5 linked regions of the Homo sapiens genome follow. The protein of the gene in region 3 interacts with the protein of the main gene of each other region in a biochemical or structural test. Each region holds a gene or a part of one and is shown on either strand. Other genes may lie near its edges.

The links.
Region 1: the proteins of MYOT (region 3) and TLK1 form a complex in vitro, tested with the Homo sapiens proteins (one large-scale study listed by BioGRID).
Region 2: the proteins of MYOT (region 3) and SNTG2 interact in a test that uses a peptide from one of them, tested with the Homo sapiens proteins (one large-scale study listed by IntAct).
Region 4: the proteins of MYOT (region 3) and PALS2 interact in a test that uses a peptide from one of them, tested with the Homo sapiens proteins (one large-scale study listed by IntAct).
Region 5: the proteins of MYOT (region 3) and HTRA3 interact in a test that uses a peptide from one of them, tested with the Homo sapiens proteins (one large-scale study listed by IntAct).

Annotation. Positions count from the first base shown.
Region 1 is NC_000002.12:171,044,646-171,050,608, reverse strand, and holds part of TLK1 (serine/threonine-protein kinase tousled-like 1), read left to right. Parts: intron 1-434; coding exon 435-545; intron 546-658; coding exon 659-795; intron 796-4,246; coding exon 4,247-4,435; intron 4,436-5,963. UniProt on the Homo sapiens protein: Rapidly and transiently inhibited by phosphorylation following the generation of DNA double-stranded breaks during S-phase. This is cell cycle checkpoint and ATM-pathway dependent and appears to regulate processes involved in chromatin assembly.
Region 2 is NC_000002.12:1,233,012-1,238,974, forward strand, and holds part of SNTG2 (gamma-2-syntrophin), read left to right. Parts: intron 1-4,876; coding exon 4,877-5,006; intron 5,007-5,963. UniProt on the Homo sapiens protein: Adapter protein that binds to and probably organizes the subcellular localization of a variety of proteins. May link various receptors to the actin cytoskeleton and the dystrophin glycoprotein complex.
Region 3 is NC_000005.10:137,864,246-137,870,683, reverse strand, and holds the start of MYOT (myotilin), read right to left. Parts: upstream 2,825-6,438; 5' UTR 2,731-2,824; intron 244-2,730; 5' UTR 33-243; coding exon 1-32. UniProt on the Homo sapiens protein: Component of a complex of multiple actin cross-linking proteins. Involved in the control of myofibril assembly and stability at the Z lines in muscle cells.
Region 4 is NC_000007.14:24,574,844-24,580,806, reverse strand, and holds part of PALS2 (protein PALS2), read right to left. Parts: intron 1-5,963.
Region 5 is NC_000004.12:8,276,254-8,282,216, reverse strand, and holds part of HTRA3 (serine protease HTRA3 isoform 1 precursor), read right to left. Parts: intron 1-5,963. UniProt on the Homo sapiens protein: Serine protease that cleaves beta-casein/CSN2 as well as several extracellular matrix (ECM) proteoglycans such as decorin/DCN, biglycan/BGN and fibronectin/FN1.

The sequences.
Region 1 (5,963 bases), on a different chromosome or scaffold from region 3:
GAGGAAAACCCACATTTAATTTGTTAATTATAAGAGATAGAGGAAAACTCACATTTATTTTTAAGTGATAGACACTTTATATACCATATTTTAGTTATTTTTAACAAAGTGAGGTAGATTGTGTTGCTTCTATTTAGAAATAAGAAAGCTGAACTAAAGTTCTTATAACTTAGCCAAAGTTAACCTTAGAGTATGGATTTGAATGTATGGATATGGATACAAATTTCCCTGTATGTACTTTCCACTACACACTTAAGTAACATTTAACAGTATTATCTCATGGTTAAGTAGGCTTTTTTTTTTTCTCGTATCATACTCAGATATTTAATATTATTAGTCCTATCTGTATATAATTTATTTAGAACATTAAAACTATTTCTAAGCTTTTCATATTCCCCAGTCTAGACCTCTTGCATTTTCTACTTATGTCATAGGCTAACTGTGATCTCAGACGGCAAATAGATGAACAACAAAAATTACTTGAAAAATACAAAGAACGATTAAATAAGTGCATATCAATGAGCAAGAAACTTCTTATTGAAAAGGTAGGCTAAAAGTTGAGTAAATTTTCGCTTTCCCTTCATTAGCCCCTTTTGCTTTGTATGCTTTTATAAATTAATGAATACAATTGAGTGATGATTTTTTTTCTCCTTTTCAGAGTACACAAGAAAAGCTGTCAAGCAGAGAGAAGAGTATGCAAGATCGATTACGCCTCGGGCACTTTACAACAGTTAGACATGGCGCTTCATTTACTGAACAATGGACAGATGGTTTTGCATTTCAGAATCTTGTGAAGTTAGTCATTCTTAACATTTAAAAGTTTTTAGTATTCGTTTGGGTTTTCATTACTTTAAAAGATTATAGATTTGTAATTATGCTCTCCAGTTCCTCGCTACTCTGAAATCATAGAATTTAGTACCTTTGAAAGGGATATGAAACCAAGAGTATTACAGTTTTAGCTTAGTAATTTCTTGATTAATTAGCAGTCATCTATAGAATGTAATATATTATTCTAATTCTGACTTTCCGAGATATTAATTGAACCTTTAGCTTTACAGATGATGTTTTGAGAGGGAAATTGTTGAAAATTTAATTTTCACTGGAAGATTTGTGTGTGTGTTTATTTCCTAGGATTTTCCTACTTAGTTTTTTCCCATTCCCCAATCCTTACATGTTAATGTTCAGCACTTGCCTGCTCTCTATTCCTAAGGGAAAAAACTTCTCTTTTGCCTCAGATATAATAACTGATTTATCAGTTAAACTGAACATGTGGCTTTAGCGTTTCTGAGGTAAACTCTATTTATTATTTATTTATTTTAATTTCAACTTTTATTTTAGTTTCAGGGAATATATATGCAGGTTGTTACAGGGGTATATTGCTTGATACTGAGGTTCGGGGTACAATTGAACCCACCACTCAGGTAGTGAGCATAGTACCCAGTAGTTTTTCAATCCTTGCCCCTGTCTCTGCCTCCTTCATCTTTGTAGCCCCCAGTTTCTATCATTCTCATCTTTATGTCCATGTGTCTCCAATGTTTAGCTCCCACTTATACATGAGAACATGCGGTGTTTGGTTTTCTGTTACTTTTCAGATCAAACTTTTAAACAGAGGAATTATAGTTACCATATTTTCTTGAGTTCAGATGGTGGTAGAAAAGGATTTATTGGCTGTTTATGTGTTAAGGAGTGCTAAATATGCTACTCCGTTTTTGGTGGAAAATTTTTTTAAACCTGAAAATGGGGAGTAATGCCAGCATGAACATCAGCTTTTCCAGAGTATCCAGTTATTTGAAATAGAGGCAGAACTTACTTTCACATGGTATCACACCAACATTGCTGTTCAAACACTGCCTCCTAGGACTTGCCACAGAATGGCCTTCTCTCTCAGCAGATTTATTCAACTTTTCTTCAACATATCTGTGCTAGTTATACCACAGTGAAACAAAGGATAATGTCCTTGTGATATTAGAGAGTTTGGGTTTCAATTCTGCAGATAATGGGACTTGTTAAAGGTTTACATATAGTGTACGTGATCGGAATGATATCTACAGTGATAGTTGTAGAATAATAACTGATGGTAATGTGAAAATATTATTAGAGGATGAATGTTATTGGTAGTTAAGATGGAGGGGTATCCAGATGAAAGGTGATTAAAGCATGAACTAACATATCAACAGTAAAGTGGAAAGCAGGAGAAGATAATTTTTTAGTGTTTATGAGCAAGAGGCTCTGCTACTAAACCCAGACCGGCAATTGTCCTGCAATGAATAAAAGAGACAGTTATATAATTAATATGAATGTTCTGAAATATAAATTCTACTAGTAGTTCCAATTTCTCCTCTTAACTGTCAGAAAAGAGGCCACAGGTGCAGTGGCTCACGCCTGTAATCCCAGCACTTTGGGAGGCCGAGTTGGGAGGATCACCTGAGGTTGAGAGTTTGATACCAACCTGGCCAGCAGGGTGAAACCCTGTCTCTACTGAAAATACAAAAATTAGCCAGGCATGGTGGTGGGCGCCTGTAATCCCAGCTACTCGGGAGGCTGAGGCACGAGAATTGCTTGAACCTGGGAGGTGGAGGCTGCAGTGAGCCGAGATCATGCCACTGCACTCCAGCCTGGGCGACAGAGTGAGAGTCTGTCTCAAAAAATAATGTCAAAAAAGAAAATAATTACTTGTATGTCCTGACTTTCACTAATAAGCATTTATTGAGGACCTACTGTGTGTATATCAAGCCGTTTATAATTGGTGATATAATCCAGAGTGGTTAGAAGATGAGAAGAGAAATAAATAAAAGTAATAATATTAATCTCTAAACTGTATAGTCATCCCTGAGTAATCAGCTATTAATATCTATTCCAGTAATTCTTTACTTTCCATTAATATTTTAATCATTAGGATTATTATTGCTTATTTGCATTTATACCATCTTGATTGTGCCCTAAAATAGCCTTAAGATTTACTTATTAAAAATTGAAATTTATTCCTGCTTCTAAATGAAAACCGGATTAAAGTCTTGTTCTCACTTTGCTATTCTTGAGATTTTTCTCTACCCTTTCAATCTTCTACCTAGATTCTTCTTGATTTTTTTCACTCCTATCATATTCTGCTACTTTATCACTAAAACCATAGGGAAGGGGATGTGTGTAAGGTCAATTCTGCATTAGCAAAGTAGGAGCCCTTTAGTTGATGTCAGTGGTTGGGGAGAGGAGGGCATGAAATATTTGACTTGCTCTAAGTATTGTAACCATGTAGGATTTGAAAATTTTTTATTGGCATAGTGAGGTGACCTGAAAGAGAACATGGTTACTGTTAGAATAAGCTTAAGGTGTTGTATGATAAGTTGGTTTTAAAAAGCTTCACTGTTAACTACTTTATGCTCTGCTCAAACTGCTAAAATATCTAATCTACATTTTAATAATAGACATGGTATCTATTCGTTTTTAGAATTAGGGAGCTATTTGCAAAATTGTTTCAGTTTCTTGAATGGGAAGCATTGATTTTATTTTTGTTACTTTCCCATTTTTCAGAGCCATGCTAATTTTTCTTGCTATTTTCTTGTCTTTTTCCCCTTAAATTATCAAAAAAATTTTTCTCATAAATTTCTTATATTAAGGTTAATTTGTCTCATTTCAAAACACCAACTTCCCATTACCAATTTTTTTTAACAAAAGTAGATTTAGAAAATAACTCTCTTCACATTAAATTCATATTTGCCTTTTGTAAATTTGTTTGCAAATACTGTGGTGAGATGCATGTGTAACATATACCCCATACTTTAATAGTTTGGGGTATTGTTTTATCTCATTTCATTCAAGAAACATTTACTGAGCAAAGGTAAGTGATGATCACTACACTAGGTACTAGGGATACAACAGTATAAATACTGTATAAATAGACACCATCTGTGTTCTTAGGGAGTGATGTCATCTAACCGGACACTTTCTGATAAAGTATCTATAGGAATAATATTTATTAGAAAGAGTGAGGTGGGGAGATAGAAGATCCCATGAAATTATATATGGCAACACATCTTTCCCTAATCTAGGGGTTTAGAGAATACCTCACTTAAAAAAATTCTTTCAAATGAGACCTGAAGGATAAGTACAAATTGGTTCACAAGAGTGGAACCAAAAGGTTACGAATGTATATTTTATGGTTTTTCATGTTTTTTATGCATTTTTTCCAAGTTTAGCCTTGAAAAGTAATGGAAGGTTAATATGGTTTTATTTGTTTATTTTTACACAGGCAACAAGAATGGGTGAATCAGCAAAGGGAAGATATTGAAAGGCAAAGGAAACTTCTAGCCAAACGCAAACCTCCCACAGCTAATAATTCTCAGGCACCCTCTACCAATTCTGAACCAAAACAAAGGAAAAACAAAGCAGTCAATGGAGCAGAGAATGATCCCTTTGTTAGACCAAATTTACCACAACTGTAAGCCTCCATTTAAAATTTTTCTTTTTTAAAATTGTTGCCAGTGAGCGTGAATGTTACTAATGGATGTTATTTATAATTAATACTTAGATAGCAAAAATGATTAAGACCAGGAAGGAAGGCAGTATTGAAAATTTAGCTCTAAATTAATAGCCCCAAATATCTGAATTCTACCGTTTTAAGCAGAGATTTAACAATTCTCTTTTAAAACAGAGACCTAGGTAGCTAAGAGGTTACCAGAATTCACCCTTCTGTGTCTGAATCAGTTAGGAATCAATTAAAAGTTTTGGATTATTCTAATTCAACGTTTCCATTCACATTCCTTTGTCTGAGAGAATGAAGTAATGTAACTACCATTTATATGTTTTCTCAGCCTGTGAAAGCAGTTCATTAGTGGGTTATAGGTATTGTTTTTCCCTTTCTGCTTTTCTTTGTTTTCTGGATTTTCTTTGTTAATGAATTATTCTTTATAATTTAAAGGACAAAGACATTTTTTAAAAGAAAATTTGGAAAATAGGACAAGAATAATAATATAGACCATGATCCCATTTCACAGAGAACACCATTGTTAAAATTTCAATATACAGATGTATCCAAACTTACATAAATTTTCTGTTCTAGAAGAACTTACGTAAACTCACGTGAGTAGAAAATACATAGACCGGGCACGGTGGCTCATGCCTGTAATCCCAGCACTTTGGGAGGCCAAAGTGGGTGGATCACGTGAGGTCAGTAAATTCTCAGAGAGAAACCCCGTCTCTACTGAAAATACAAAAATTAGCCGGGCATGGTGTCAGGCACTTGTAATTCCGGCTACGCAGGAGGCTGAGGCAGGAGAATTGCTTGAACTTGAGAGGCGGAGGTTGCAGTGAGCCAAGATCGTGCCATTGCACTTTAGCCTGGGGGACAAGAGTGAGACTTTCTCAAAAAAAAAAAAAAAAAAAAGAGAAAATACATGTACCCTCTAATGTCTTGTATGTCATGTATTCTTTTCTCCTCTATTGAAAGATTGTCTGTCATCCATGCTTTGAATCCCATCCACACCTGTATCAGGAACCTCTTCTGTTGATACCTCCTTTGTGCTCTGCTTGTTACTTCCCTTCCAAAAACATGTAAGCAAAACCATTAAAAAACTCTCCCTCAATTACAAATCCCTTTAGTCTCTATATTCTGTATGTTCTCTTCATAACTAGGCTTCTTCAAAGAGTTGCCTGTCCTCGTAGTCTCTTCTGCCTTGTCTTCCAGTTGCCCTTTCTTAACTGAAATTTTTCTTAAGATTATCTTCCTGATGCTAAATGCTGTAACATTTGGGTCTTTAACTTACGTAGCAGCACTGAATATTGTTGACTTATTTTTTTCCAAAAAGACTATTTTAGTTTTGAAGATACTGAAGTTTCCATTTTAACTCATCCGGCTGCATCTTCTCAGTCTCTTTCTATGGGCATCATTTACTTACCAATCTGTAAAATGTAGATGACTTTTAGGGATATGTCCTAGGCCGTCACATTTCTCACTCTGCGTATTCTCC
Region 2 (5,963 bases), on a different chromosome or scaffold from region 3:
CAGGGAGTGACAGGCTGTGGTTGTAATGAAGGCCACCAGCCATCATTTATGGATGAAAGCTTCCTTGGTTAAATTTTGTACGTTCCAATGTATTTATTCTTTAAAAACTGGACAGCTTATTAAAAAGGCGATTTACACATTTTGACTTTCTCCGGCATTGAAGCTTTGACGAGCAATTAAGAATTCTCAGTTTTTAGGGTCAAATTTTATAGTTACTGGAATCCCACAGCACAAGGGAAGCAGAAGGTTGGAAGAGTGGTCATTGGTAGCGGATGTAGCAGGGGTCTCGGTTTGGGGCTTTAATGACAACTGCTAATGCTCTGTGATTGGTTTCCGCTGAAACAGATGATTTGAAAAAGGGTCAAATCTGTTGAGGTGTGTTTTGTGACAGGAAGATTCCCAGCGGTGTGGGCGGGATTCGGAGGCCTTTCTGCATGTGGACAGGAAGACCGCAGCGAAGGCAGGCAGTGTGACCGGGCACATGAGAGCTGGGCTGTGGGGCTTTTCCCGGCAGGAGCCGCAGGGTGCAGGGTTGAGGCTGGCACTGAGCCCACAGTCAAGAGCGCAGGAAGAACGGCTTAAACAGACTGGCTGTCCTCCACAGGAGGTGGAGACCTGAGCACGTAACTTCAATTCCTTAATGTCCTAATACGTTAAGACATGTGCTTTGAACGTTATTGGAATAAATTTATTTCTCTTAGCCAAAAACTGAATTGATTCACTTTCTAGAGTATAAGTCTATTTTCAGTTTTCTCTTTGGAATTGAAAAATTCTCTAAGGGCACGAGGAAACCCTGGGAGGAGGGTAGACTTTTCAAAAGTGCCGACACAGTCAGTGCTTGACTTCCCCATGGATGGCGAGTGTCTGGGAGCTGGTTTGGTTTCTTCTCGGTGGACCCCGGGGTGCCAAGCGCTCTGCCTTCACTTGGTGTGGCTTTGCTTACAGCAGCTTCCTACAATCTCATGTGTGTCCATCAAAGAGCATGTTAGCTCCTGAGCAGCAGATGCTCTGTGAATTTTAGCTCCGATAATGACCTTGGCCACGTGAACACCATCCTAAAAGGCCTGAGCGGCCACCATGAGGCGGGTAGAGAGGCCGGGTTCCAACTGTGAGCCACGGAGGAAACTCGGAGGAAACCGTGAAACTCGGAGGAAACAAAGGCCCAGAAATGCCCTGGAAGAAGCGGCTCCTGATCTTGCATCCAGACGTGCCTGAAAGCAGATTGCGTGACTTACACTAGTTACCCGGCTTCTATAACAATAAACCAAACAGTGAACCAACAGTGAGCCACGCTGTGAACTTTCTTTCCCTGTTTCATTAACATGTTAGTATCTGCCATCAGCATTCATGTCAACAACTTTCACAGTTTCTGTTCATTTGATACTTAATTTTTATTGCTTTCTTTGATAAATTACAGACTAATAATGTTTATATGGTACTTACGGGCTTACAAATAACTTTGTTTCAGTTATCCCATTTGTTCCTCTCAGTATTCCTATTTTGTGGTACGGTTGGCATTTGAAGCCCATCGTACGGACAAGGAAAGCCCAGCTCAGAGGTGAGATGTCCAGCCTGCCTCATGAAGCTATGGCATAAACGTGCCTGGACTGCAGACGCCTTCCTTTTTATTGCAGGACACAGCCGTCTGCCCCTCGTGCGAGTCCGTGAGCCTCTGGGGCTCCACGTGCATTCACTGCCTCAGGGGGCAAAGCTGATGATCTTTCTCAAGACCACAGCATCGATAAAGGGTCCTTCATGGAGCCTGGGTCCACTGTCTCTACTCACATCTTATTCCTGCTACATCAATGATGGTGTAAACCTCCAAAGGCAGAGTTAGGACTCTGGACTCAGATTCCTTCTCACCACTGACTTTACGAGGATGACCACAGTACTGACCCTGCTGAGAGCACCCAGTGTTCAGTCATCCATGCATTTGGTGCATACGTCACCAACCCTGAGAATCAGGAAATGCCAACTCCCTGAGAAGACACTGTCGTTAGTACATGTGAGCTGGAGCCAAGCGGTGACCATGCGTGTCCTTCACACGCCCTCACGCGCAACCAGGGACCCCCAATTCATGAGAGGGGGGACCCCTGCCCCCATGCTGCCCTGAGGTCCCTGCAGGCCCCACCAGGCACCCCCGATTCATGAGAGGGGGCGCCCCTACCCCACTCTGCCCTGAGGTCCCTACAGGCCCCACCAGGCACCCCCGATTCATGAGAGGGGGCGCCCCTACCCCATGCTGCCCTGAGGTCCCTGCAGGCCCCACCAGGCACACCCTATTCATGAGAGGGGGGCCCCTGCCCCACGCTGCCCTGAGGTCCCTGCAGGCCCCACCAGGCACCCCCGATTCATGAGAGGGGGGACCCCTGCCCCACGCTGCCCTGAGGTCCCTGCAGGCCCCACCAGGCACCCCCGATTCATGAGAGGGGGCGCCCCTACCCCATGCTGCCCTGAGGTCCCTGCAGGCCCCACCAGGCACACCCTATTCATGAGAGGGGGGCCCCTGCCCCACGCTGCCCTGAGGTCCCTGCAGGCCCCACCAGGCACCCCCGATTCATGAGAGGGGGGACCCCTGCCCCACGCTGCCCTGAGGTCCCTGCAGGCCCCACGAGGCACCCCCGATTCATGAGAGGAGGCACCCTTACCCCCACGCTGCCCCAGGATCCCTGCAGGCCCCCTAGTCTAGCTGGATCCAGGAAAAGCTGCCCCTGGCCCACACTGGCACCACCCCCTGTTCCTCCCCAGGCCTTTGGAGAAGAACAGGCTCTTCTGAAAGAATAAAAGCGTAGAGCTCTGAGATGGGGAAAATTGGAGGATGGGACACAGGGAACTTTTGAGGATTCTTCTAAAGTCTGTTTTTGGTCTGAGAGTTGGTTGGCCAAGAGTATGGAATACATGACTGTTTATCGAGGTGTTCACTGGTGAGTTGTGTGCGTGTGTGTGTGTCCTGTAGCTCAATGTAAAATATGCCTAAAAATAATAGTCTCTGACCTCTTCATGTGGGGAGCCAGGGAACTTGGCTGTCGTCCGCAATAATCTACTTGACCCAGCTGTTTATTAACCACTAGATTAAGGTCAGCCTTGCTTTGTATATGTCGCACCAGTTAACATGAACAAATGAGAAATGATGGCAATGAACCCATTTTTAGTTAGCACTTACTTTAATAAGAATTAATGGATACTTGGACAAAAGTGTAGATATAAGTCTGTCAATATTTAATAAGCACCTAATTCATGTGGAATATTACACAATCTGCCTAAAATAGTCTCCCAGCATTTTGAAGTGTAAAAATTAATTTATTATAGCAGACATCCAGGACCAAAGGCCCCACGGGAAGCGATGGATCCTGAGGGACAGGTGCTCCCCAGGAGGACCAGGAAAGGTGATCAGAAAGGGCTGTGCGAAGGTGGAGGCAGAGCTGCCTGCCCTCCCCATGCAGGGGACCTGCTTCCTCTGGCTTCTTCCCCTCTCCGGCTCCACACAGTCACCTCCACCTTCACCTCTGTCCTCCTGCCAAGTCAAGAGTACCTTGTTCATCGCCATCAGGCAGAATATCAGCCACAAGTAGATAAACCTCACATTCTGATTCAAGAAACACTAATTAGAATGAGAATGACCCCTAGACAGGGATGTCAGCTTTTTAAAAGAATGACTTTTAAAATAGCAAACTCTGGTCTGATAGATTTGGCTCAAAAATATGCAGAACTGTGTTATACCATCTCTGTTTCCTACCCCTTCTCCTACACACCCCACCTTGCCTAAGAAAGCAGCGATGACACTCACATTTGAAAGATTATTAGAACATAGCTTAGTGATGACTTATTTTTTTAAAAAAATATGTTTGCTTTGTTCTGTATTTTATCTTCAGTTAGCTGCTTGAGACCATGGAGGTATTATGAGTCATATACATTAATATGCATTGTTTTCTTTTTTTCTTTTTTTTTTCAGATAGGGTCTCACTCTGTTGCCCAGGCTGGAGTGCAGTGGTGTGATCTCGGCTCACTGCAACCTCTGCCTCCTGGGTTCAGGAGATTCTCCTGCCGTAGCCTTCCGAGTAGCTGGAGCTACAGGTGTGTGCCACCATGCCCGGCTAATTTTTGTATTTTTCGTAGAGATGGGACTTCACCATGTTGGCCAGGCTGATTTCGAACTCCTGACCTCAAGTGATCCACCTACCTCAGTCTTCCAACGTCCTGTGATTATAGGCGTGAGCCACTGCGCCCGGCCAATATGCACTATTTTCTTAAGAAAAAGTCTATAAAAGTGTACATGACATTTCTCTTTTGCAAATAGGCATATGTAAAGTATGTTTTTAAAAAATATTGCATGACAGGGAAGAACTACTGAATTTGAGACGGTTGGTTGTTAATACTTTGCCATGATTGAGTTCTCAGCAAGTGGAGTGTCATGGAGCAGTGGAAGGGGACTATGTTCTCCCAAAGCTCCCCTGTCAATCAGAAGCACACAGGTGGTCCTAGAGAAGGGTGGATGCTGAGTGCAGAGGGTGCTGGGCTGCTCCAGCCTCACCCCATCAGGAGCTTTAAGTGCTCCATCCAAAGGGTCTTCGAAAGAATAACCAGTAAGAATCCTGCAGACAATAACTCCAGAATTTCAGGAGCACTGTTCTTTCCTTGACAAAGTGCTTTTCATGTTTCATCGAATTAGAAGTAGCTCCTGTTACCAAGGGAATTCGGGGTTTGGTCTTGGTCTCAGCGAGCCTGCTGACTGTACTGAGGCGCCTGAGGAAGTGGTGCAGTTGCCCCATGTCCTGGGTCCAGGGTAGAGCCCTGCTGAGCATCAGCCTCGAAACTCACGGAGGCAGGCCCGCTCCCGTCGCTGCGGGGCCTCCTGGACAGCTCTCTCCCTCCCCAGGTGGAATGCGTTCGAGGTGCTCGCCCTGGACGGAGTCAGCTCTGGGATCCTCCGGTTTTACACAGCCCAGGATGGCACCGACTGGCTGCGGGCGGTCTCAGCCAACATCAGGGAGCTGACACTTCAGAACGTGAGCACACGGTGTTTCTGAGTCTCTGCTGATGCTCATTCGTGCATGAAAAATAATGGAGACATCATGTTTCTGATGATTTATGATTAACCCGAAACAGAAAATCATGTACTTGTTTCAATGTGTCAAATCTATGTCTAAAAACATTAAAAATGAAGCCATCAGAATGTTTCCAAATCAAAGAGTAAGGCAATGTCTAACAGCTGAGAATTTCCCATCTGGTTTTGTCTTCCTCCTCCCCTCTGTCTGCCTCTGTCTCTCTCCCTCCCTTCCTCTCTCTTTCTCTCCACACACATATACAGAAATAGTTATATGTCATAATTTTATATTTTACCCAAATGCATTGATACAGTGTGACATTTTGAGTTGGGGAAACCTAATTGAGTTAAAAGTATAATTCTCCCAAACATTATGAAGATTTAGAAAAAGGCATAATTGAGCAAAAACATTACTTCTCAAATTTGTACTGCAGTCCCCCAGAAACGAAAAAGTATTCTGTCCCCTTAAGTGATGTTTGATATTAAAAGTCAACAGGATTTTAAAAATTAAAGAAATGAAAAGAGATGGGGTGGGAACGAAGACTTGATGACACGGGCGTTGCCTGGAGTGATGGGTGCCTGGACTCGGACATGGAGCCGTGGCCGCAGCCCTGGCAACTGTGGCAGGACTGGCCGTGCCTGGAGGCGGCCCTGGACCAGCCTTGCTGCCCTTGCTCCCTCTAAGCTGAGTTGCCCTGTAATTGCACTTCGATCCCTGCTCTGTTCCTTCGCAGCCTGGAGGCTGCAGAGGCTGGGTCCAGCTTGCAGACTGGCCAGGCGTGGCCCACCCTGCGGCCCTGCAGATGCACCCGCCCTGCCCCTGCCCTGCCCACCACCTCACGTCTCCCTTGCAACCTCCCTTCTTCCTGTGGCTGCAAAACAGAAGTTAACCTAACACTGGGGGAAGCAGCAATGTGTG
Region 3 (6,438 bases):
ATGAAGTGTTTTGGACGTTCGTAGTTAAACATGCTTAGTTGGTATATGGAAGATGAAGGCAAATTATTACTATAATGATTTGTTCCTGGAAGGGTGGGGCCCTGAATTTGGGGCCACAAGCCTGGAATTACGGAAGGTTGTAAGGAATCAGAAGCAACCTTGGTCTGCTCTTCCTTGTTGAGATCCTGAGAATACTGTGCTCCTGGCTTTGGTAGAGTGACCTTCTCTTGAAGAATATTGTTCCTTCAAAAGGAGAAAATAATTGTTACAATATTTGCTTAAACAATAACATTGTTTATTTGACATCTTTCAGATCTGATGTGCTTTTTCTTTTCCTTTCTTTCCTTCCTTCCTTTTGTGTGTGTGTGTGTGTGTGTGTGTGTGTGTGTGTGTGTCTTGCTTAATCGCCCAGGCGAACATAGCTCACTGTAGCCCCTCCAACTCCTGGGCACAAGCGATCCTTCCACTGCACCCTCCAGAGTAAGGACTACACATATAAGCCACCACGCCTGGCTAATTTTTCTTTTTTTCTTTCTTTCTTTTTTTTTTTTTTTTTTAGTAGAGACAGGGTTTCACTATGTTGCCTAGACTAGTCTTAAACTCTTAGCTGCAAGCAATCCTCCCGCCTCAGCCCCCCTTGGTGCTGGAGTTACAGGTATGAGCCCCCGCACCCAGCTGAGTGGATTGCTTTTTAACCTTACAATTCACTGCTTCTTTTTCTCTCCTTGATTCCAAATTGACCATATTACTAAACTAGATATTAATTAAGGAGTGACTGTGTGTATATGTTTGTGTAGAACATATGTTACAGGCTGCATTCCAGAGCCACTTATACATTTTTCTGTTTTTATTATGTATTTTTAAACAGAATCATACCTTATAATTCTGTTATTTTTAGATTATACTTCCTAGTTGTTGGTCTTGATGTTCTTTTAATTATCTAGAGTTTTACTTTTTATTATTTGTTTAGTATGTATTTTAGACTAATTTTGTTTTTTGGTCTTTTTTTTCTTTTTTTTGCCACACCTTTGGAGATCTCAGACTAATTTTGAAATTGCTTTAGCTCTTTTACTTTTTCTTTTCAAATGGCAAACAGGAAGCATAGAAGTAAATAAGACACATATGAAACTAGTCTATACCTTACCAAGAAAAGACAGGTGCCATTCCTCCTACTTAGCTCTGTAGTGGGCCTCCTGCCTTCCTACAGTACATCCTCATTTTTTCTCAGATGAAACATTTGCCATGAAAATCAACCTTGAAGGATTATATTTGTCTCTGATTTTTTTTCCATTAGTATGGTAAACCTAAGCGGGACTATATATAGACATTACACACAAAGACTAGTCCTATAAATTGTTTTCACACTAATCCTGTTTTCATTGAAAATATCAGATAAATTGATTCAAAATACATTTGCCTATTTTGTTTCATCTGGTATAAGCCAATACTGAGATAATGACAAATCAAACTTTTAACTGAAAAATTAACCAAATTGTTTGTCATCATTGAAACGAAGTCTTCTAATTATTTTAGTTACTGTCTTGGATAAAATGTTAATAAAACTTTTCCAGACCAAAGAGTTTCATCCTAAATAATAGGATACCTTCAAAAAATAGTATTTCAAAGTTGCCTATGTAGTTTAGAGTTAAATTAAAACTAGCAATTTTAGGAAAAAACAGAAATGCAACTAAACAGCCAAGAGAAAGACGCTATTGAGAAAGAATACTTAAAAAGTTAAATATTCCTTAATTTCAAGTTTATGAACACAAATACATTAAACTAGAATGCATTTTAGAAATGAACTACTTTAGGCATTTAAATTGTTGGGGAAAAACATCCTGAAGGAGGGCCTTGAGTAGATCTAAAAAAAAAGTCTATTTCAAGGCAAGTAGTTTTGTAGTTATCGGTTTATTCAGTCTGTTGCAGAATTGAATCCAGAGTTTGATTCCTAAATTTCTTTCTGGGCAGGTACATTATTGAGACTCATTTCAGATAGCAAGGAATAAACCGCTTATGAAATAGTAGATATTTTCCAGAAACAGTTCTCTTTTTTTCTTTACATATATTTTCAGAATGGCAACTGTCTTGTACATGTTGATATTGGCCTACATTGTTAATAATTAGTGATATTTTTAAAAGCCCAATTAAAAATATGTTATTTCATAAGTTTCATTTTATCCATGTGTCAAAATTTTATGCAGACATTTACGCAGGTGATCCTGTATTTTCTTTATGTTTGTAGTTACTGTTCAACAATTTAATTCTATAATAGATTCTGTTATATGACAGGGTCATTTTATTCCAAATAATGTTAAATGAATTTCAAAGATTTTTATAAATAAAGTACTATTCAGTCTCCTTTTTAAAAAATCTTAACATTTTTTTCCTGTCTCTAATATAGCATAGACTTGCACAGAAGACTGATAGAGGATATGTTGCGTTCATAAGACATCACCACAATTACATCAGATCAAGTGTCCCTTTTCAAGGAAAAATGGTGATTTAAAAATAATGACACACAGCTATCTTTCCTTCTATCATTTGTATAATGCCTTCCAGTCTCAATGAAATGAATGAGTCGCTTTCTCTTTAAATTTTTGTGTAATACCATTATAATGTTGTGGCTTTCAAACTTTTTATCTGAAAATCATCTTTGTATACACTCATCTGATTTGGACAAAAAACAAAAACAAGACCTAAAAGTGTAGTAGGAATAAAGAAGGGACTTACCCGTAGTTCCAGAGGGTGCCAGCTGGGTTTAACCCACTATTGAAGGGAAGGAAGAGGCATCTCCTTCCCTCACAGACTAATCTAGTGGCTCTGTGCTTAGTATTATAGCACCACTGACTTTTATCAGCTGCCAAACAGTGACATCTGATGTGCTTGCCTGTCCATCTACCTATGCTGGCATGTCAAAGTAAGAGTCCACAATCTAAACAATATCTCACGTGTCTTAGTGGTATTTAAGGAGTGGGATTACATGAGCTTCTTTTGCAAGCCTCTTTATTTCAGACGTGAATTTTGACTATGAACTTTAGCAAGCTCATGTGAGGGAAGGGCAGTGAATAGGGAAATGGGAAAAATAGAAAAAAAACCCTCTTATTTCTTTATTATGGTGGGGACTTTGAATTTTCCCAGTTTAAGAGAGAGGACTAAAGGGAAAATAATATTTCAAGAGTGGAGTTCTTCTATCTATTATACTAAGACTTCTCCAGGAATAAGACCAGTGATAGATGGGCTCCCAATTGATTTGTATTGCATAATTCTTCATCTGAAGTCTTTTTTCTTTTGCCTAATGAGAGTAGGATTCAATAATAGATTTGAGGTCTCTCAGTACTAGCAGTTTGTTCCGAGGTGGAGGGCAGTCTGGGCAAAGCAGGAGACCGAGGTCATAGTGACATGTCACTGGGAAGGTAGGGAGGTGGAAAAACATGATGGTGTTTCTTGAGCAAGTTTTCTGAATCTGTATGGCATATGCCCCTTTTGCCTAGTACTTTTATTCTGAAAGAGTTTTGAAACACTTAAGAAACAACCAAACAAATAAGCAATCTATATAATTAGAGCTGTCAATGCATGTTCATCTCCCTTTATTCCTAACAGTTAGTTTCCTTTCACTTTTTGTCACAGAGACCATCATGGTATTTAGATTTCCATTTTTGTGCAGGGAAGTAAATAATTGCAGAAGAATAAAATGTCGAATCAGCAAATGTGGTGAAGTAGGGTAGGTGGCATGAGGATTGGGCCAAGGGAGTAGAATTATCTCCATGGGGTGGCTTCAGTTCCCCTCCCTCATGGGTAGATACCCCAATCTTGATTGAATTAACATGTATATTAGAATCCAGCAAATAGATGTTTGAGCACATATGAGCCATATAAAATCCTTCACAGCTGGCCAAGTAGGTGTACCTTTCTTTGGTGTTCAAAGAAAGCTTGATAATTTCTGCCTGGGCGTGCAGCCCTTAGTAGAAAAAGCATGCTAGACTTGGTGAGTAGGTGGTTGCCTACAAAGTCTTATTTCAGGAGTCTCCCAAAATATTCTTCAACATCTGTTCACTGATATTTCAAATTCCAGTAATACAGACAAAACCTTTCCATCTAAATTAGAGAGACTTAAAATACAAATGCAAGTGATAGGATAAAAGTAATAATAGCCAATATATAGCATTTATTATGAGTAAGACACTCCTTCAAGCATTTTATTTTATTATTAGTTTTTTTTTAGAGACAGGGTCTTACTCTGTCACCCAGGCTGGAGTGCAGTGATATGATCAGAACTCACTGCAGCCTCAAACTCCTGGGCTCAAGAGATCCTTCCTCTGCAGACTTTCAAGTAGCTAGGGCTATAGGCATGCAGCACTATACCCAGCTAATTTTAAAATTTTTTGGACAGACAGAGTTTCGCTATGTTGCCCAAGCTGGTCTCAAACTCCTTGCCTCAAGCGATCCTCCACGTCGGCTTCTCAAAGCACTGGAATTATAGGCATAAACCACATGCCCAGCCTATCTATTCTAAGCAATTTTAAATGTGGTATATGTGACTGACATTTGGTTCTGCTGGAGAACAGGGTTTGATTAGGGCATGGAAAAGGAAATAATAGATTTGAGGTCTCTCTGCACTAAAAGTTTGAGGTATACCTCACCAGCCAAGTAGGGAAGACATCCAGGACAACCTGCTAAATTCCCAATTTTGCCTACAGCAGGTTCTAAGCATACTACACTCGAGGAAGAATTTAGTTCTGCTTACTCTTTGTCTTTCAAGCTTTGCCTCTTCTCTAGGTCTTTGTAAGATACAACCCAGGTTACCGTGTGTTACATGTGATAGCCTTCATGGTACGTCAAGGCTAAAGTTTTTGCTATAATGGGATCAAGGGATGATTTAGGAAAGGTAAGTAGGTCCTCTTTTATGATACCATTCTCAGTAGTCAGGGGCTATATTAATAATCTACTGTAAATCTGTTTGTTCCTGCCTTTTAATGTTTGATTTGCTTTTTTGAATGGTGGTTTGTTTCCTCACAAATATAGCTATTTGAATGGTTTAATTGCCTATTTGAGAAAAATCATAGACTCTTAAGACTGGAATTATTACAATGCCAGATGGGTGAACTTTTACTACAACCTGCTCACAAAGACAACCTTTTCCATTTCTTTTTCTAAATTATCAGTAAGGGCCTTCAGTAAATTATTCAAATGCCTTACAAAATATAGTAACTTCCTACTATCTCACTGAAACCTTTCCTGTTACATGTTAAGGGATTCCTTGTCTATCGTCAGTTTCAGAAACAGGGTAGCTATTTAACTGTCTCTCATTCTTCCCTCTTCATATATAGCTCTTGTCTTTCAAAAATATAAGATATATATGCCATTGTAAAAAAAAAATGGTGCTGTGAACTTCTTTTAAATTCGGAGGTCAGATGTGTGTGATGAAACTCATTTCTGCTATATCAACTGAAAAGGAAAACGTCACATTGAGGATGGAAGAACTAAGGAGTGAAGAAAGTTTTATTTTAGTTCACACAAATTCACTGTGGTTATTAAAGTTCTGCATAGATATATAATGAAAGGGAATCCCATTGTAGCATTTGTAATTTGAAATATCCAGTCTAACATTTGACTCAATCTTATATTATTCTCAAGCAAGAAATAATAATGGAATCCATCGGGTTTGGAGTTAAAGAATACAAATGATAACATTAATTTGGCTAATGCTCTACAACTTTCTAGACATATTTACCTTTTGTTATCTGTTTTTGGAGACCTGAGTGTGAGGGCCCACTCCACCACATACATGCTGTGTAGCCTTAAACAAGTTGCTTAAACTTTGAGCTTTAATAACTAATCGAAAAATGAGGCTAGGCATGTTGGCGCATTTCTGTAGTCCCAGCTACATGGGAGGCTGAGGTGGGAAAATCGCTTGAGCCCAGGATTTTGAGGCTGCAGTGAACCATGATCACACCACTGCACTCCAGCCTGGGTGACACAGCAAGACTTGTAACCCAGACTCACAAAAAAAAAAAAAAAAAGAGTAGTACAAGGTTTACCAACCTAAATCAGACGATTGATGAGAGACTCAAGTGAAATGGGAAGTCATATAATGGACATTCTGTAGGTTTATCTCCTTAACTAGATTAAAATGTTTCTGAGAGAGGGACTGTTTACTACTTATTTATCTTGGCCTAACGCAGTGTGGCTCATAGTAGACACTCAATAAAAACTTGTTAACTTTTATGGAATATTTACCCAATAGTTTTCTCCATAGGTGATTTTACTAATGAAGATGGTCATGTGTTATGAAAGATACTAACTTATAAATTCAAGGTCTTTTAAAGTTTTATTTATTTGCTTATTTTTGTTTTTGAGATGGGGTCCCACTTGGACTCCCAGGTTGAAGTGCAGTGGCATGATTCATATCTGTTGCAGCCTCAAACTCCTATGCTCAAG
Region 4 (5,963 bases), on a different chromosome or scaffold from region 3:
TAAACGCCAACCTCTTGATAGCAAGAAGAAAAAACAAGGAAGCTCAACTAGTAAAACTGGGTATATTTGTTCAAGGCTCATGTGAACGAAAACACATAAATCATCTACTCATGTGATGAGTGTACTTGCCAGTTGTATAAGCACTGTGTTATAATTTGTTCTGTACTGAAAAGATAAATTATGGATGAGGCCACCTAATGATGGCTTCCTTGGAGAACCATGCCTGAATATTCATTAGTAGAAAAGAAACAAGAAGGCAGAGGAGGGAAGAGTATGCAAGAGAGTAAAGCAATGGGGATCAATGAGGTATGTGCAGAAGTATTGACCTGGTGAGAGACCAAGTTCCAGCATTAGAGTTACCTAAATTATATACAACCTCAAAAGCTTTGTTGAATGATTTCATTATTAAAATGGAATATTCCACAGGATGTATTATTTTACACTCAAATGGTGGCTCCTGGGGATTTTAACAATATAAACATGCTCCTGCCCCATACCAGACCTACTAAATTAGAATCCTTTAGCGTAGGATAGCTCCAAAGGATTCTGATGCCCACTTAGGTAAAGAATCCCTGCCAGAGTCACTTCATGGTAAAAATGACCTACAGAACAAAATATAAAGTATTTATCCTTGAAATATGCATTTAAGTAAATCAGCTTAGTATTTTCCTAAGTTAAAACTTCTCCCAACATGTACCCCTCTGAGTTCCACCACAGAATTTCTCTAAACGAATCCCTCACCTTTCACTTTTCCTTTCCTAAGCATATGGCCCCCAGTCTGCTCAGAGAATCATTTTCCCCACACTTTCTCATACATTTTTCTTTAAAAGTCCCACATATCTCCAGCTGCCCTATTCTATCTTTTAAAAATATTAATCCTACCCAACTAATATCTAATAATATCCTACAGAACAAAGCAACTATGAAAAAGTTCCATTAATATGCTATACAATAAACCAAGATTTATAAAAAATTGCTCTATTGCCTATTCTAATAAATATTCTAAGTAGATTTATCAAATGAAATTGAAAATCACTTTTTATAAAAGATTTCTTCCAAAAACATAAGAATTATGAACTGGGTCTATAAAAAGGTGATAAGCTAAGCTCCTTCAATTAAATCTTTACTTAGTGCTACTAAGTAGGTAACAAAGTGCTGGGCTGTGTGAAGGATACAAAGTATCGGAAAATCTCGGTGATTTATAAACAACTTTACCAGTACTGGGGTAGAAGAAAGGGGAATGGAGAAGATGGAAAGGGGTAACTAAATACCACTCAAAAGGTATCTCTTTTTGGGGGAGGAAGCCTGCTGTTTCAGTTTGTTTATGACTTTAGCCAAAAACAAAGCAATGCAAGTTAGTGTTCAAATAAGTTGTGCATTAACTTTTTACCCTTTCACAAACATCTGTATCAATTAAGGCATATTTCCAGCCTTTTCTATTTACCTTAATGCTCTTCAGAAATTTCAACCACATCAGATTTTGATTTGTGTTTCCACCAACAATGTGAAAGCCCCTGTTAACTAATAGCCTCTTCAAAAGTATTATCAAACATTTTCCATCTGTCAGTAGGTGAAACAGTATCTCATAGTTTTTATTTATAATATTTGTATTATGTGTGAGGTTGAATACCTTTACAGATGCTTACAAAACACTTGCATTTCCTTTTCTGAGAATTACTCTGTTCATGATCTTTGCCCACTTGATGGTTGGTCTTTTCCTAATTGGTTAGTAGGTACTTTATATAAAGGAAGTTAGACTCTTATTTATCATACAAATTGCAAATATTTCTACCAGTTCCTCCATTATCATGCTATTTTTATTTTACTTCCTTTTTGTATATATTTTATCTTCCTCAATCAAACTGCAAATCATGCCCATGAAAGATATCACATTTCTTTTCTATATCTCCAGGAAGAGTGCTTTTCAGATACTTCAGATTTCAAGATCAAATTTAAAAAGAGGAGAGACGAGTGTTTTGCAGCAGATGAATAAGTATGAACATTAATTATCACAGGGGCACCTACTTGGATTGTCTGTTTAATCCCATTACATGTGGTTACAGCAAGTACAACCAAGTTCTAATAATGAGATATAGTTTATTGAACAGGGAAGAACTAGATGAACCTTTCTCCAGTTTCCCAGGCTGGTATCATGAAAACTCAGAAGCTACTGGTGGCCATATTTTCCACTAAGAGGACTAGAAGTGGTCCTCTGCAGCAAGAGAAGGAATGAAGCAAACGCACAGAGAAGAAGAGAGAAACGATATGATGTGCCCTGCAGGCACTGGAGTCCCAGTCCTTGCATTCCACTGGACATTGGCTGCATTTGAACGATAAATTCCCTTTATAACAACTAGAATGGATTTCTATTACTTATGGCCAAAAGAGGCCTGTTTACCATACTACTATCATTTTATAAAGGAGCATTTGAACACCGAAACCTCAGAAAGAACATGACCTCAGATTTTTTAAAAGGATGATTTATTTAATGACAGCTATGTGCCAGGAACAGGTCTAAGTCCTTGAAATATAGTGTTAATCAAAAGAGACAAGATCAGCAGGGTGTGGTGGTTCATGCTTATGATCCCAGTGCTTTGAGGCACTGAGGCGAGAGAATCCCTTGAGATCAGGAGTTTGAGAGCAGCCTGGGCAACACACACAGCAAGACTCCATTTCTACAGAATTTTTTTTTTTTAATTAGCTCGGCATGGTAGTTGTTGCCTATAGTCCTAGCTACCAGGAGGCTGAGGTGGGAGGATCACTTGAGCCTAGGAGTTCCAGGCTGCAGTGAGCCGTGATCACACACACCACTGCACTCCAGCCTGGGGTGACCGAGTGAGATTCTATCTCAAAAACAAAAACAAAAAGAGACAAGATCATTGATATCACGGGGCTTATATTCTAGTGAGTATGGAGATTATAAAATAATATAAAAACATAATTTCAGATACTGATAAATGGTTTGAAGAAATTTTTAAGTAAAAAAGGTAATGGGATTGAGGGGGATGAGGCTAGTGTCATTCTGGAAGGATGGTTAGGTAGCAATGCTTGTCTGAAAAGATGATATTTGAACTACAACATGAAATGATGAAAAGTAGTCACTCATGTAATGATTTAGGAAGAGTTCCCAACAGAGTGAACATAGTGCAAAAGCCCTAAGTTAGGAGCAAGCCATGGCATTGATGAGGAACAAAATGAAGGGCAATGTAGATGAAATATAGCAAAAAGTGGAGGAAGAGGGTAAAGAAATGATAGATTTAAGAGGAAAAGATGTAAATTGGTGAAGGAGGGATTAAATCATGTACAAAACTAGCAAGCAGTAGAAAGGATCTGAAAATAACTTGAGCTTTATGAAATATTCATTATATTGTCTTTAATTCTCATTTTGCCTTGTATCAGTGATAACTCTGACAGATAGGCTTTTAGAAACTTCCATTCCCAAGTACTTAACACAATCCTAAAGTTAGCCAGAGATGAATATATTCCTAAGCAGAAAGTATCTCTTCTAGTACACTATATTAAAAAAAAAAAAAAAGGAAAAAAGGAAAAAAGAATTTTCGGATGAAAGCAAAGTCATCTTAAAGGAAAGAAGGAAAATAACCTAGGATGAAGGAAAAATAGAAACTAATTTTGTTCTGTTCATTACTCTGTGAATATACTTACTATGATAAAGATTATAGAAAGGTCTTTGAATTAGTCTATCATAATTAAGGAAGGTCATAAAACTTAAGTTCTTTCTAAACTACTATAAACGTAGCAGCCTCTGTTTACTGAGTTCATTATTATTGAATTGGACATTAACAAGGTTAAATACTGTCAGAAAAGAAAAAGTAGAAACCAGGCTTTTGACTTTATTACACCTGGTAATAATGGTCACAGCTTAATGGTTAACAAAGTTGTGGGCTTTAATCTTATCTATATGACTATGATAAAGGAAGAACTTCCCCTCTGCGGTGAAATGAACACTAAAATTAGCTACATGGGATGCTTCAATATCTTCTCCTCCAAAAGCTTTTTATAAGAGGAGACCAATTTGTTTAAAGGGTTTGGATATAGATACACTTCACAGAAGAGTGATGATCTTTCCAGATCCTTCCAGACAACTAATATCTGTGTACTCTAAGCAAGCAATTAAACCTACACTGCTTCTAAGATTAATGCAAGTAAAGTCGGATCTTTGAAAGCTATAATGTATTCAGGAATCTTATCTTTCATTATGTTAGAGGCATACTTAGACCACTTAACAGTAGACTGTTAATAACACAGTCTATAAAGAATGATACTTTGTAAGCATGCTGTGAGTTAAAGAAAGAAAAGTCATTAAACACCTTGATTGAGACTTGCTTCAGAGTGCATCCTCCTCAGCACACTACCCAGCAGTTTGACAAAGTGCCCAGGATTAGCAGCCAATGTATGTAAAGAAGGAATATGGTCAAGCCCAATTGTAAAGTCTCCCCCCAGTGGTCAGATACAAGTAACAGAAAAGGAGGAAAATCATTGCAGCTTCTGTGAGACTGAACAGGAAGACTAAACAAAACTGGTCCCTACAACAAAAAAATAAAATCTTTAATTCAATACTAGCACCATATCAGGAAAGAGATCTCTTGTGCTTATCTGCTCTTATATTTATAAATGTGAAGACTACTTTTCTAAAGAACCTACAGTTAAAACAAAACTAGCATAATTTTTCTCCGCCTAAGTTTTAAGGAATAACTGACATATTCCCAAACAGTTCAGTATTTATCAAATGGGTAAGTGTTCATTCTTCCTGAAATAAACATCAGCACATCACTTACATGGTTAACTATACTTACCTGAAGTAGAGTTCTGATTTAAAAAAAAAAAATCTAGTCACTCATCAAGTGAATCACTCTGGAAGGAAAAATTATTAACTATTATATACCTAATGTGAATTTTACAAGATACTCTTTTTCAAAAGTCACCTAGCAATAGGTAATTTATATTAGAGTGATGTCAAAAGTATAAATGCGTCCTCTTACCTCTTTTAATTTTATTTTCTGGCTGTTTTTTTACAATTAGCCTTTGACTAGCACTAATCCTGTATTATTTGTAACTCTCTCAGCAATAATATGATGCTACTCCATTTTTACAAAGCTCAGATGTCAAAAATATGAAAGACATTTAATTAAAATATCTGTTTTATTCTGCTAATCCATTATTAAGTAGTAAAGCATGTAAAGGGATAGTAAATATTCAAACAAGCAACTTCAATTTTAAAACAACTTTTTAAAAAGATAACACATAGAGTCACAGTTATGTCTTCTTGGTTATCTCAAGCTAAAAAGAGGGGGAGTGGGGAGAGAAAGAGAGAAGCAGGCTATGTAGTGCTCTGGAACAATTTCAGCCTAAAATGAGACTCAGAAGCAAACTGCTCCCTCAAATGTTTAAAAATATGATTCATTTTTAAAAATCCAACAGTTGGCCTAAAGAAAAAAAAAGATTCTGTCTTATATAGAGCTACTAGACTTGCTTAAACACCTTAATTTTTCCAGTGTTGATTTAACCTAGAATGCAAAATAATTCATTTTGACATTCCAGATGTCAAGAATTCGGTGGCATCAGTAAGGACACATACACACCTCTTTCATAAAGATGGTGTGCAGTCTCCATAGGACAAAATTGAGCAATTAAAAGTGTTACCATTTGTGTATTATGTAACCGTAGTCCAGAATGAAGGAAACATGGACCTTAAAGAGTAACACATCGTGCAAACACGCATTTAAACACCTATTTAAATATATGATAGATTTAAGGTACAAATGACCTCAAAATGACACAACCCACAAAAGTTCTTTGTTTACTGTTAACAAGGCCTCAGAAGACATAACTATAATCAGGCCTACTACCCACTACCCTATCATTGCACAGTAGATGCCTACAATAAGCAATATTACTTGAGGTCCGTTGCTATACCTATATACGGAAACTATATACCGCATTAC
Region 5 (5,963 bases), on a different chromosome or scaffold from region 3:
TAAAAAGGCTTCCACGTGCTGGGCTTCCTCACCCCCCTCACTGGACCCTGCTAGGCTGGGCAGGAGGCTCAGAGAGAGGTTAGGATATTGCCGTGAGCCACACGGGAGTGAGGCCAGGGCTGGATCTCGGGTTAGTCCCCCTGGGCCTTGTCTGTTCCCTCATGCTACAGCAATACCCTTACAGGAGAGAACTGGCCCTCTCCTCATGGGCTCCAGCTGGTCCCTCCGAGCCCTGGGGCTACAGCAGTGTCCAGGCGGGGGTGTAGTGGAAGACCCCCAGGTGACCCTTCTGAGCTACCCAGGCCCGGACACAGTGTGGCCCCTCTGGGCCAAAAGAGCTGCCAATTTCTGAGTCCACAGGGCCCTACATCTGTGTCTAACTTGGCCACACCCCAGCCCGACTTGCTAGATGGTTCACGAACTTCCCTGGACCCTTCCCGGGCTCAGATTCCTGCTGCCGTCAGCAGTAGGGGCTGTGGCTGCCAGGACCACAGGCCTGAGGCATGCAGTGGCACGGGGCCCACAGCCCTCGGGGTTCCCTGCACGGGCCTGTGCCGGGCTCTCTCCAGTTCCCACCATCTGGAACACATGCTGCTCAGCCTCGCTCGTGGCTCCCGAGCCCCGCAATGAGCAACTGGGCTGGGGGCTGCACACACCAGGGGTTCGGCTGGGCCTGGCTGCTTTCTAGCTGTGTGGCCTCAGACAGATTACTTACGTTCTCTGGGCCTCAACTCCTCATCTGAAAAATGGGACTGAATATGCCCTCCTACCACATCTGTGGGAACTGAGTGTGGAGGACTGCAAACTTCGAGTCCCTGCCCGGGGGGCTACCCACCCACCCAGCCACCTTGGCAATGGGGAGCAAAGAGGGCTCAGTCCATAACGTCCAGCTTTCCAGCTTTGCAGCCCACATTTCTCTTGATCTCTGGGAAGTGGCCGGGCATGGGGACCGAGGGAAAATCTGGTTTTCTGGATCGTCCAAAGGCACGAAGGTACCATGGTGGATGCCACTGTGGGGGCAGGGCCCGGGCCGCGGTCCGTGCTCTAGGAATCATCACAGGGCAAACACAATCCCCAGGCACATCCCAATTCATTCACCCAACTCTCCAGGGGCAGCCAGGGGAAGGAAACTTTTCCTCTATTTTAAAGGTGGGGACACTGAGGCTCTGTAAGAAGAACCCCCCTGCCCAAGGACTCACGGCTGGGAGGGGAGAACCAGGATCTGAACGCAGGCCGCAGGCCTCCTTTCCCTGGGTGCCCCCACCTCTGCCCTGCAGCTCCCCAAGGCCCTGAAGAGCCCTTTAGCCTGAGCTGGGACCTAGGGGGTTGGCTCGAGCTCTGGTGTTGGGTCTCCCAGACTTCCGATGTCTGCCTCTCAACCGGCCCGCAGGCACCAACCACACCAGCCCTCGTCCACTTCAGTCAGCCTGAATCAAAGGCCACCTGTCTGGGGTGGCTAGAGCCTGGCTGGGAGACGCCGGCCACCGCGAGGCTCCTCATAGATCAAACCACTGCGGCAGAGCGGGGTCTCAGGTTCAGAGGTCACATTAACAAACACCCCAGGGGCAGGGCCTGCTGTGGGCCCAGGGCTCTCTCTGCCCACGTTTGCTTCCATGAGGGATGCGCTGCCCTGCTCGACACCTACAAAGCAGGCGGCTCCCTTGGTGAGGTGAAGCTGCCGTGCGGCCCGAGTGGGCAGCCCAGGCCTGTCTGCTTCTCCTCCCTGCCCCTGGGAACTTGAGTTCATTTTCTAGCACCCAAGTAGAGAGGAAGGACACCAGCCACAAAGCCTGCTTCCCTGGTGAGGTTTGGAGCTGGTTCAGAGCTCTCACAAGATGCGCTCAGACCCACAATTTCCACGACCCAGAGGGATCCCAGGGCAACCCCCAGGCCCAGGCCCTCCTCCCTCCAGGAGGGAGGACTCAGCCGGTCTGCTGCTCCCCTGTGTGCCCTGGGGCCTGAGGCTGGCGCCCCATGTGCCTCGCCTGAGGAGAAGCGCCAGGGCACGGGCACAGCCCCCAGGTGGGACCATATTACCTCTCCTACCGTGTGGCCTTTGTCGGGCCACCAACTCCAGTTTCTGCTCATCATCCACCTCTCTACACCTCCCCCTGCACGACCTCTCTCTACTCTCCCTACCAAGATGCTCTGGTTGGTCCTGGGCCCGGCCCTAATCCTGCCTCCTCCAGGCAGCCCCGCAGCAGCCCCAGTTGTACCGAATCTGCCGCTGCTCACAGCCTTATTCAAGCCACTCGTGCAGGGTGCCTCCTGTGTGCCCACCTGTGACAGCTGCTGGAGACACAGTGGTTCAGCTGGGGGCAAGGGTCAAGTCAGTGACCGACCAGAGACAGCACAGCATCACCAGGGATGAGGCAGAGAGGAGCCCGGCGTGGGGTGGGTGAGTGCAGAGGTGCCCTGACCCAGGCCTGGAAGAGCCCACGGGCAGGGGCACAGCACATGGAAAGCCACAGGCTGAGCCCGCATTGCCTGTGCAGGCAGCCACGGCACACAGGGACCTGGGCCCAGTGTGAACACAGCAGAAGGAGGAATGGCAGCACCTCTCCTCCCACAGGTGATTAGAAAAGGCTGCCTTCCTGTGTGTCTCCATCCTGGACTCAGACACTCCAACACCCAGGGCCGGAAAGCTCTCTGGACCCCAACGTGTCCACCCCCTGCTTGCCAAAGCCCAGCCCCTGGACCCCCTCAAGCGCCTGGGCTGCTGGGCCCCTGAGCTCTGACGCGGCAGCCTGAAGATCTGCACAGCACTGCGGCCTCCACCGGAAGGACTTTCTCCCCAGTGTGGTCTCCCAGAGGTCACTTAAAATAGGTGACACTCGATTTTATAGGGGATGATTTGTTTTAAAACCCTCTGTGAAATATTCGTTAAGTAAAAGCCTTGCAGGAAACATCAAAATTCTACTACATGGTGGTTATTTGTGGTTGGGGTAAAGTTACAGTGACTTTTTTTCATTTTTCAAAGAGAAAATAAAACAGGGAGGGAGAGCAAGGCCTGAGACAGAAGGGCCGTGGGGCTGGGCTGGGAGGTGGCCTGTTTCCCACAGAGTCTCCAAAGAGAAGCCCGCACGTGCCCACCCCACACCCCAGGCTCCTTTGGGACAGAGACCATCTGGTTCGCTTCCACACCCCAGTGGTAACCAGCACAGGGTGAGACAGCCGCTGAGACATTTCAGAGGGAAGGGATGGAGGGGGAGGAGGGGCGGAGAGAGGAGGGGAGGAAGATAGAGAGAAGGGAGAGAAGTTCAAGGGGGCCCTTCTTGATGCTCTCTGAGCCAGCACACAGTAGGTCTGCAAAGAGCACCCTGAAGAAAGAATGTGGGTCAGCTGATTAACCAAGTCTCCAAGCAGCCTCACAAAAGCAGCAGCACTCGCCCATTTTATGGCCCAGGAGACTGAGGCTTAGAGGCAAAGATCAATCACTGAGGGAGGGCAGGCCTGGCGCTGGCCCAGGTCTGCTGGATTTCAGGGTCTAGGCAACCCCAGAGCCTGGGGCACCCCTGCAGGGCCCCACCAGGTCCTGTCCCTTTAAGCGGACCTCGGTGGGTGGTGGGGTGGGGGCAGGGGCCCCCGTGCCCCAGCTCCTCCTCCCAACACGCAGATGAATCAGCCATGAATCAGGGGGAAGGGAGGACGCGGTTCCCACTGCCTCTTTCCACAGGAAAACCGTGGGCCCCACGGCTGGGAAGCAGACTCTGTTTATTTGGGGGTTTTTGACAACCTCCACCCCCACCCCATCCTCGAGCCAAAGTTCTGAAGTCAACAGTCAGTCTCAACCAGATTCAGCCGTTAGCCTTTTTTTTTTTTTTTTCCTCAATAAACTGGAATCTAAAGCCCTGGAAGTTTCAGTCAGGGAGACCCTCACACAGAGCAAAGCAATCAAGGCCCGAGGCTAGGTGTCCGGTGTCACATCCCAGGAGAGGAAGGGGCGCAACAGGGCAGGGGAGACAAGTAGGGTGCCAGGGCTCCAGCTCCAACAGCCCTGCCTGATGGAACTCCCAGGAGTCCTGGGGGACTGTGGCCAACCCTGAGAGAGGACCACGTGCTGGCTCTGGACAGTCATAACTGCCATGGAACAGATGGCGACACTGAGGCCCAGATACTCTGTGGGGATACCTTGTGTTTGTACACTGCGTAACTCCAGGCCCTTACTGACAAATATCAGAGTGGCCAGCTTCCCTGCAGTTGTGCAGTGCACAACCTGCCCAACTGTATGCATCAGTCCCTCTAGCACATAATGTGCAGAGCTGGGACTGACACCCAGTTCTGTTCCTCCATCTCTAAGGTCCCTGCCCCTTCTTTTAGTGCCCTCTGCAATTAGCAGACCCCTCTGCCACCCAGTGGTCAGCTGTGAGCTGGGGATGGAGGAGCCATGAGTGGATAGCCATGGGTCCCAGGCTGTGCCCATCTGTCCATAACGGTGACCATGGTCTACAGACCAGATGGCAACCTCTAAGCAGGGCATTCAAGGCCTGGGGTGTCCTGGTCCCATTGACATCTGCAGCCTCACGTGCTGCCACTCTCCCCTGTGGACCTCGGCTCTGCTTCCTGCGCGTGCAGGCTCCTAAGTGTCACTGTGCCTTTGCACATGTGGTTCCCTCCTCTGGGAATATGCCCTTCCTGTCATTCCTCAGGGCCCAGGCCAGCAGCGCCTCCTCTGGGGAGCCTACCCTGACTTTGCAAGCGTGGTGATCCACCTCTCCTTCTGGGCCCAACAGCACCTCGTACCCTTCCCAAAGCTAGTCCCTTGGGAGTGTACCTGTGGCCTGCACCCCTGCGTCTGGGCTGGACCTGGCCCGCTGCAGTGGGCAGGAAGCAAATGAGGGAGCGAATGAATGCTCTTCAGAGACAGAGGAGCCATTCCAGGGGCCCCCTCAACAGCCCCCAGCCCCGCCCACCACTAAAGGGGCTGCCTCCTGGGTCTAACTAGTTCCCAGGGCAGCTTCCTTTGCTTTTCCTCCTCTGGAAAACTTGCCTGTCCCCTAGTGAACTTTGCCCCACCGAGCCATGTCCCCAAGTGAACCGTGCCCCCACAAGCCTCAGGTCCAGCTGTGGCTCCCCGTGGGGTGGATGCTGCCATCTGCCACCCTCAAGCCCAGAGACCTGTTCATGTGGAACGCAGGCGGGATGAGGGCTGCAGCCCAGGCCCAGAGGAACCCGCTGCCTCCCCCTCCACGGGCCACACCTCGCAGGCGGGACCCGATTTGGGCATGGGACGTCAGGCTGGGCTCCGAAGTTTGTGATCTCATTGAATTCTTGCAGCAATTCTGCAAGACAGGAACTGAGTCCATTTTACAGGCAAGGAAACAAGGCTTAGAGAGGCCACGGGACCTGCCCAAGGTGCACAGCCAGGCCCCGCAAGCCCTGACCTGGGCGCTTCCCCTGCTCCGTGCTGGCCCTTGGCAAATGTGACAACCTGTCCAGCCCCAGAAAAGCTCAACCTAGACCCGAGCTCAATGTGGGGCCAGCCTGGCTCCTCTGGCTGTGAAACTCCACACCCAGCTGGGCCACAGCCAGCCCCTGGGAGGAGGAGGAGGTGCTGCCGCCAGCCTGCCTGTGATTTACCAAGAAGGCTGGTCCTTGTGCACAGTGCCATGGGTCAGGCACTTCCATGCCACTGAAGGCAAGGAAGACAGCCCCTGGCCCTCCTCTTACAGGAAGCCCTCCCTGCCTTGACCGGGGCCAATGAAACTCCCTCCGGCAGGGCCAGCACATGGCAGCACCTCCACAGACACCGCCTTCCAGCTCCTCCCCTTCCTCGACCCCTCTCCCTCACTCTCACTAACTCCACTTCTGTAAGACGCGTCCACCTGCCATCCTTTCTTCACATCAACTTCTATGAGCCCGGCACCGTGCAAAGCACACTCAGTCCATCATCTCATTTGCCCAGTGACCAGTGAGGGGGGTCCCACTGTTATCCATTTCACAGATGAAGAAACTGAGGTGCA